Homo sapiens: one gene and its partner. The protein of the gene in region 1 interacts with the protein of each later gene in a pairwise test. Each region holds a gene or a part of one and is shown on either strand. Other genes may lie near its edges.

Region 1 (4,201 bases):
ATTGAGAGAGATGAGGCGGAGACCGGGGTATGGGGAAAGAGCATAGAACCCCCCAATTCTGAAACAAAGTAAACATGAGAGGTCAACACTTGTTCCAATCCTGGTCCTCCTGTGCTGGGCATTTGGGTGGAGGGTAAAAGCATACATGACATCTTCCCCACCTGCAAGGAGCTCACAGTCTAGCCAGAGACCAAACAGTTCTAATTATTGGGTCTGTGTGACACAAAAGACTCTGAGGGCAGAGGGCTCCAGGAGTATGGGGGAGGGATAAGAGTTAGCTAGAATGGGAAGCAAGGACCACACAGAGGGAAGATGACATGGGATGGATAAGGTGGGAAAAACTGGAGCACTTAAAAAAAAGGGGGAAATCATTTCCAGAGGGCCAACATGAGCAAAGACACAGCTGGGGCATAGAGAGGTTATGCTGCCAGACCTTTGAAGGAGGGTGGCTGGAGATAAGAGTAGAAAGGGAGGGCTGGAAAGCTGGGTGCAGTGGTTCATGCCTGTAATCCCAGCACTTTGGGAGGCCGAGGTGGGCAGATCATGAGGTCAGGAGATCAAGACCATCTTGGCCAACATGGTGAAACCCCATCTCTACTAAAAATACAAAAATTAGCTGGGTGTGGTGGCGTGCACCTGTAGTCCCAGGTACTTGGGAGGCTGAGGCAGAATTGCTTGAACCCAGGAGGTGGAGGCTGTAGTGAGCTGAGATGGTGCCACTGCACTCCAGCCTGGGCAACAGAGCAAGATTCCATCTCAAAAAAAAAAAAAAAAAAAAAAAAAAAAAGGGAGGGCCAGGAGCAGTAGCTGATGCCTGTGGTCCCAGCATTTTGGGAGGCCGAGGCGGGAGGATTGCTTGAGGTTAGGTGTTTGAGACCAGCCTGGGCAACATAGCAAGATCTTGTCTCTACAAAAACTAAACTAAAAAAAAAAAAAAAAAAAAAGCCTGGTGCGGCAAAACAGTAGAAAGGGAAGGAGGAGTCAGATTAGGGGAGCCAAATGAAGAGCACTAAGGACTCATGCTAGAGCAATCAGAGACAATGCCCCAGGTTCCCTTCTCCCTTCACTTTCATTCACCTTTCTTTTCCCTTCCTGGGTTTCCACGGACGATAAGTACCTGAGGGTGCGCAGGGCTTCGGCAGGCAGCCAGGGCTCCCAAGCCTTGGCCATCGCTTCATAGAGCCAGCGGGAGGAGTGGTTGCCCTCAATGAAGGGGGGAGGGAAGCTATTGACAGGTGTGCTTTCATGGTTACCCACAGCAGGGTACACTGGCACTGGCCCCAGGAACTTCCTCACAAGTGCTGTGACGGTGGTCAGGGCCCGCAGTTGGTCCTGACGAGTCTGGTGCCAGACATCATGTGCGGGGATGTCTCCTGTCCAGTACACCATATCAAAAGGGCCGGCTGGGCCCAGCCCACTCAACAGGCTCTCCAGGGTCCTCAGGGGCAGGTCACACTTGCTGTATTCGCCCCAGTATCCGGCACCTGGCCGGGATGCGGGCGGCAGGCCAGAACCCCGGCGGCAGCACAGTGGGTCTGCACAGTCAGGGTCCGTGCCCTCCAGGTAGTCATGATCCCAGTGCAGGTCAGTGAGGAAGAGGATGCGGCTGACAGGGGCACCTGGGGCTGGGGGGCTAGGGGGTTTGGGGGGCGGCTTCGGCACAGTAGGCAAAGAGATGTTCCAAGATGAGAAAATGTCCCAGTGCCCACAGGTGGAGCCCAGGAGCAGGCCACAGGCCTCAGATGGGCTCAGCACTGAGCGTCTCCACACCTCCACCATGTCATCCTCAAAGAGGTGGACAATGGATTGGCACACGGCAGGTGGTGCTATCTTCAGCAGATTGCACAGCTTGATGGCCACGGAGCCCACGCGAGCCACATTGGGTTCCTTCTGCAGTGGGAGGAGCGCATGGTGAGAAATCAGAGGCAGAGCAGAGGAACCAGGCCAACCCCTGGCCACCACCCCTTGGGCCTCCATTTCCAAACTGGGGCTGGGCAGGACTCAGTGCACCAAGCTCAGTGCACACCTTTGCCTTCCAGATATTGCCCTGTAACTCAGGCAGCACCAGGCCATCGCTTCTTCTTTAGCTCAGCGGCCTGTGGCATGAGGCCTTTGCTTGGCAAGCTGACTTCCTCAGGCACTGTCTGCATTATTTTCTTACTTCACAAAGGTCACAATGGGGTGATGGTGGCATGTAGCCATGGGTGTCCCCAAAGGGGAGCAAACTCAGTGATGGATTGTAGATGCCACCCTCTCCATCAGGGATGCATTCTGAGCCCAGCGCACCAGCATCAGCCCCAGCCCCCAGCCCCAGCACTCCTTTCGGCCTCCTCCACTGCAGCCCCTTCAGTGCTCACCTTCAGCCCGAGGTTGATGGCGGTGAATAGACCTTTGCAGATTGGGCAGGTGAGGTTCCCCCACCCAAAGACATCTCGGAGCCGGGGCACTATGCGATGTAACCTGGCAGGATGGCCTTGGGGAGAAAGAGGGTGAGCCTCTGCCGGAGCCCAGAGAACCCGAGAGTCAGACAGAGCCAGCGCCAGCGCCAGCGCCAGCGCCAGCGCCAGCACCAGGCCCATCCAAAGGAGTCCGGGGGCTCCGGCGGTCCCGTCTTGTCCCTGCTCCCGGCCGGACCTGGGGCAGCTCTGGCGGAGTGACGCTCCGTAGCGGGGCATTGTCGCGCTTCCTACACGGGGCTGGTTCGTCTGTCCCGTCCCCCCCGGCCTGGACCCTAGCCAGCCCTCAGGGCCCCGGGCGGCGCCGGGGACACCCGATTACCCTTCTCTGTAGTCGGCTGACTGCTCCGCGGCCGGCCGCAAAGCAGCTCCGCCCCTTCCTCTTCCTCTGATCTCTGACAGCTGATCTCTCGGTGGCGGGCGGCTGTCAACGCTGCGGAGGCGGAGGGGGCGGGGCGCTCCCGGGACCGCCCCGATTCCGCCCCCTCTCCCTGCCCCCGCCCTGCCCCGGGCGCACGGGCTGCGGGGGTGGGGACTCTCCCTGAGGTCACCAGGGGCTCCGCCTTGAGGTCACAGCCGCGGGAGGCCGTGCTCGTGCTTTGGAGCTCCATGTGATGTGGTCGGTGGAAGACGTCTCCTTTGTCAGAATCCGCGCTCAGATTCCCGGAATAGCTGCCAGACCGACCCCAGCGTTTAGCCCGGGAAGGGGAGGTAGGAGAGAGCAGGGCGGGCAGGATCCTCCCACTGGGTGTGTTGCCTCTGACAGGAAGGCGCCTTCCCTCGATTCCCCATGCTCTGCCACTGGCACCAGCCCTCTTGAGTCACCCTGAGAATCACTCACCTGTGATTCAGATGAGGAAACAAACCTTAGAGATGGTGAAGAGACTAGGAAGCCGTAAAGACCATATAGCCGTGGGGGCCAATAACATGGGCGGGAACCCAATTGGGTCTCCCACCTCCGTGTATCCACGACAGTAAAAGCGAGCATTTATGGAGTTGTTTATGATGTGCCAAGCACCAACCCAGGCACTTTATAATTAATAATCTTCAATTCTCACAACAACCCTAAGAAGTACCTATTATATTGGGGCTCAGAAATCCATACCCAAAATATGGTGGTTTGACTTACTAAGTTAAGCCTTAAGGTGTGTCTGGCCTTCCTACTCCCGCGCCCTCTCTCCCAAAGCCGTTACCTAGCGTCCAGACCCATCAAAAGGAACAACGGTTTTTTTCTTCCCCTCCCTACAAAACCAAGAATATAATCACACCTGAACAGACCCCTTCACATGATAATGTGCTAGTTAATCTGTTCCCTGATCCATTCCTTCTCCCTCAGCAGAATTCCTCTTCCCCTCACTCCCACAACCCCCTTTGCCTGAATGACACCTAAGCTTCTGAACTCGTCTGGGAAGTGGGTAGTCACTCTGTGGTTCCCCGTGGACACATTAATACAATTTCTATGCCTTTTCTTCAATTAATCTGTTTTTTGTGGGTTGATTTTTCAGCAGAATTTCAGAGGGCGAAGGGAAAGTTTCCCTTGGTCCCTGCAAATACTATTATTACCCTCCTTTACAGATAGGATGAGGCACAAAGAAGTTAAGTGGCAGAATAGCAATTAAACCCTAAGCTGTTTGACGAGTGCTTCTGAGGAATCCTCAGAGCTATCAAGTCCTGTCAGTTCTTTCCTTTGATAATTTTTTACAAGTGTTTTTTCCCCCCAGTTCTGGGGACATCATCTCAGATAG
Region 2 (3,500 bases), on another chromosome or scaffold:
ATCCTTCTGTGATATCCTTTTGTATTCATCAAACACTGCAGACAATAACAAAATAGTATTATTGGGAAGAAAAAACAGAGGAAACTAAAATTTATGGAGAGAATGAGCATTTTTAACTAGCCTACACTATTTATTCTTTGGCATATTTCAGGAGGAAACTAATTAGTAATGTGGGCAAGCAGCCAGGAGGGATGTGCAGAGTGGAATGGGCCCCAGATAAGGAGGAAGAAATGCTGTGATGTTTGGAGGACATCAGTCAAGTCCTTTCCCTTATCTGGGACCCTCACACATAAAATGGAGATGGCCTCTGGGGAGCTTTGCTTTCCTTTCTCATTGTTTCCTTAATAAGCAGAATGTGTCTTTTTGTGTTTTTGTCCTTGGCAATCACCTCCCTGTCATCTCCCTTTTGGCTCATCAAAACTAGAACAATTCAACTGCTTCAGAACTGAGTCACAGTTAATAACAGCTGGTTGCATCTTTTAAAATACTTAAACATAATTACATTTGTTGTTGTTTTTTGCCAAGTATTTTTGAATGTGGTGAATATGTTCCCCTCTCTTGCTGTCTCCTTCTGGAAACTTCTTAGAGCAGGTATCTATTTTATCTTCTCACCATCGCCTTCTTTGGGGTGCTGCCTCACTTCCATCAATGTGATTTTAACAGGGCTGTCAATCAAGGGACACCATACCCAACAACATACACCACAACCTCTGTCAAACACGTGAGCAGTTGACCCAGTCAGGACCCGTTAGACTCTCTCCTGGGAACTTTTTAATTGAGCAGCTCACGGGGATGGCCAAAAGCACTGCATCATCTTTACCCTCAGAGAAACCTATTAAACTTCCTGGGTGTCACACTCAGAGATTCTAATTCAGCCAGTCTGAAGTAGGGGGTCAATATTTAGCATTTTTAATAGAAAACGAACTTCAGAAACTCTGCTTTAGAAATAAAATCCATTATTCCCTTCTACTGAGACCCCCAGAACTGCCTTGATTTCTGTTCTTCCTGAAGGTGTTCAGCTGTCTGTTCAAATCTGTGAGCTACCAGTATTTTCCATTTTCCCTCCTGTGCCATTCTATATTATTTCATCTTTTCTTACTTAAATTGAAGTCAGTGTGTGTGGCTTGGAATCAAAGAACTTAATTGACACATTTTCTAAGCCTCAGTTTTCTCCACTGTAAAATGGGGAAAATAATTACTGCTCCATTGAGTGTTGCAAGAAACAATGCTTATAAAATGCTTAACACTGCACCTAGAAAATAGAACATTATTAACAAAACGGTAGTTATTATGAAATCTCACCATTATTGTTGGTTGGTAAGACAATTATGAAGTTTTCCTAGTCCAAACAGTGCTTAAAATATTTTCTCCCAGTGGCTTACAAACAGATATTTCATAACTGCCTAACTATTGACTTGTACCCAGAAGTGAAAATTCTTGCAAATGCATTTATGCACTAAATCGGCTTCTGAGGACCTGCAGTTCTTGGAAAACACCACCAGGGGGAGATTCCTGTTATTTGTAACCAGGCAAGGGAAGGAAGTGAAGAAAGAAGCTGAGTCAGAAGTTTGTGTACCTGATGGTAGCCCGGGATATTGATTAACAGGAGTAATCACCTGTTTTTTTGTCACTGTGAAAAACCTGAAATAATTACAACTTCAGAATGTGTTGTACTTCTCAATTGCTTTATGTTTTCAATTTAGCAAACTCATTCTCAAATTTCCCACAAGCTTTGCAAATCAGTGTGTGTGATTAAAAGGGTATGGTGGGTGGGTTTATAAAATTATAATGTACTTAAAGATCTAAAGAACTCGTATAAAAGATGAAATATCTTATTATATCCTTACTTGCTTGTTTAAAAGAATATGAACCTGACAGCAAATATTCTAAAATTGTCTAGTATCTTTCCCCCAAATAAGTTAAAATCACATTACAAAGTTTATATTTATCAGAAACAAATTAGAAACATATCAAATTTGAAATTATCCACTATTCATCTTATACAACATAACCCCTAAAGAAATCACTTGTATTAGCTTTACAGCTTGGATATTACACAGGAATAAATATCAACCAACATTGCTATTTTATTGCTACCTGATCTACTACAGATTACTTTCATATGTAACTACATTAGAATGAAAATACTGGGGCTACTTTAGAAAAAGGACTGACTGTGAAGGTCAGTTTCCTAGAAACAAGAATGCCAAACTTCTATGACTACATGCACTTTTTCTAATTATTCATAATTAATCTTTCAGAAATTAGCTTTCATATACATCATTGGACTAATACATTTCCAGGGTGAGAATCTAAGACACTTGGGTACAATCAGTTCTTTGTACCAACTGAAGGAGGAAGGTTATCAACTACTTATGGGCAATATAGTTTTTGCTATCTTTCACTCCTTTTCTTTGGGAAATGAAGTAAGTGCCTTACCATGCAACAGGTGATTTCGGTTCCGGGAACAGAGAACAGTTAGAAATTTCACCTCATCTGTCCCCCATTTCTTCTCTCCAGCCTCATACAGGTCCTGAAGCCAAACAAAGCACAGGTCTAAAATTCCAAAAACGATGTGCCAGGACACAGGCAAATATTTCCAGAAGCTCAAAGAGCTGAGCTGGCTTAGTTTTATTTTGTTGGTGATGGGGTTGGAAATGGTAGTGGTGAGTGGAAATGACTCAGGATCCTTCCTCAGGCATAAGGCTGTTGGGACCCTGTCATACCCCCCTGGGAGTCAGGGCAAACACTAGCAGTTCCCTAGCTGGAGACTACATGGTTCTATCTTAAGAGCTAAAAGAAATGCCCTAGATTTGGGCTGTCCCCTACAGTTGCCACTAACCACATGTGGCTGTTTAAATGTTAATTGAAATTAAATACAATTTAAAATTCAGCTCTTCAATCACATTGGCCTCATTTCAAGTACCCAGCGGCTACAGGTAGCCGGTAGTCACCCATACAGGACAGTGCAGATGTGGAATGTTCTCATCACTGCGGGGAGTTCTATTGGATAGCCCTGCTCTAGAATGATCTGTGATTTTCCTGAGGCTACAGGTCTCACAGTAGAACCAGGGACCCATTGCCAATTGCTTACATTCCAACCAGGTAGGAATATAGGAAACTCATTCTGCTCAATTTAACTACATTATTGCTCAATCAGAATTACTGTTCATTTTTAATAAGCAGCTTGCCTGTTACATTTCTCAAAAAGATCTTAACTCACACATATTGTGGCTCATTGGGCTTACCTCCATATACTCCCCCATTTTTTCACTTCTTTCTCTGATTCCCTCACTGCTTTAGAGTCAATTCACATAATCATAAAAATTTAAAGCTGAAAGCGTTCATCTAATTCACCTAATTCAAAAGAGTTCATCTTATTCAGCACTTCTGAAACTTGAATCTCAACAGGCTTGTGACAATTTATTTTATGTCAACTTGACTGAGCCATGGGTTACCCAGATTTTTGCTCAAACATTATTCTGGGTGTTTCTGTGAGG

The links. The genes of interacting proteins can lie anywhere in the genome.
Region 2: the proteins of SMPD1 (region 1) and ANXA4 interact in a two-hybrid assay, tested with the Homo sapiens proteins (one large-scale study listed by BioGRID and IntAct).

What each region holds. Positions count from the first base shown.
Region 1 is NC_000011.10:6,389,073-6,393,273, reverse strand, and holds the start of SMPD1 (sphingomyelin phosphodiesterase isoform 1 precursor), read right to left. Parts: upstream 2,801-4,201; 5' UTR 2,676-2,800; coding exon 2,358-2,675; intron 1,891-2,357; coding exon 1,118-1,890; coding exon of another isoform or gene 1,078-1,117; intron 59-1,077; coding exon 1-58. UniProt on the Homo sapiens protein: Converts sphingomyelin to ceramide. Exists as two enzymatic forms that arise from alternative trafficking of a single protein precursor, one that is targeted to the endolysosomal compartment, whereas the other is released extracellularly.
Region 2 is NC_000002.12:69,815,134-69,818,633, reverse strand, and holds part of ANXA4 (annexin A4), read right to left. Parts: intron 2,534-3,500; coding exon 2,440-2,533; intron 36-2,439; coding exon 1-35. UniProt on the Homo sapiens protein: Calcium/phospholipid-binding protein which promotes membrane fusion and is involved in exocytosis.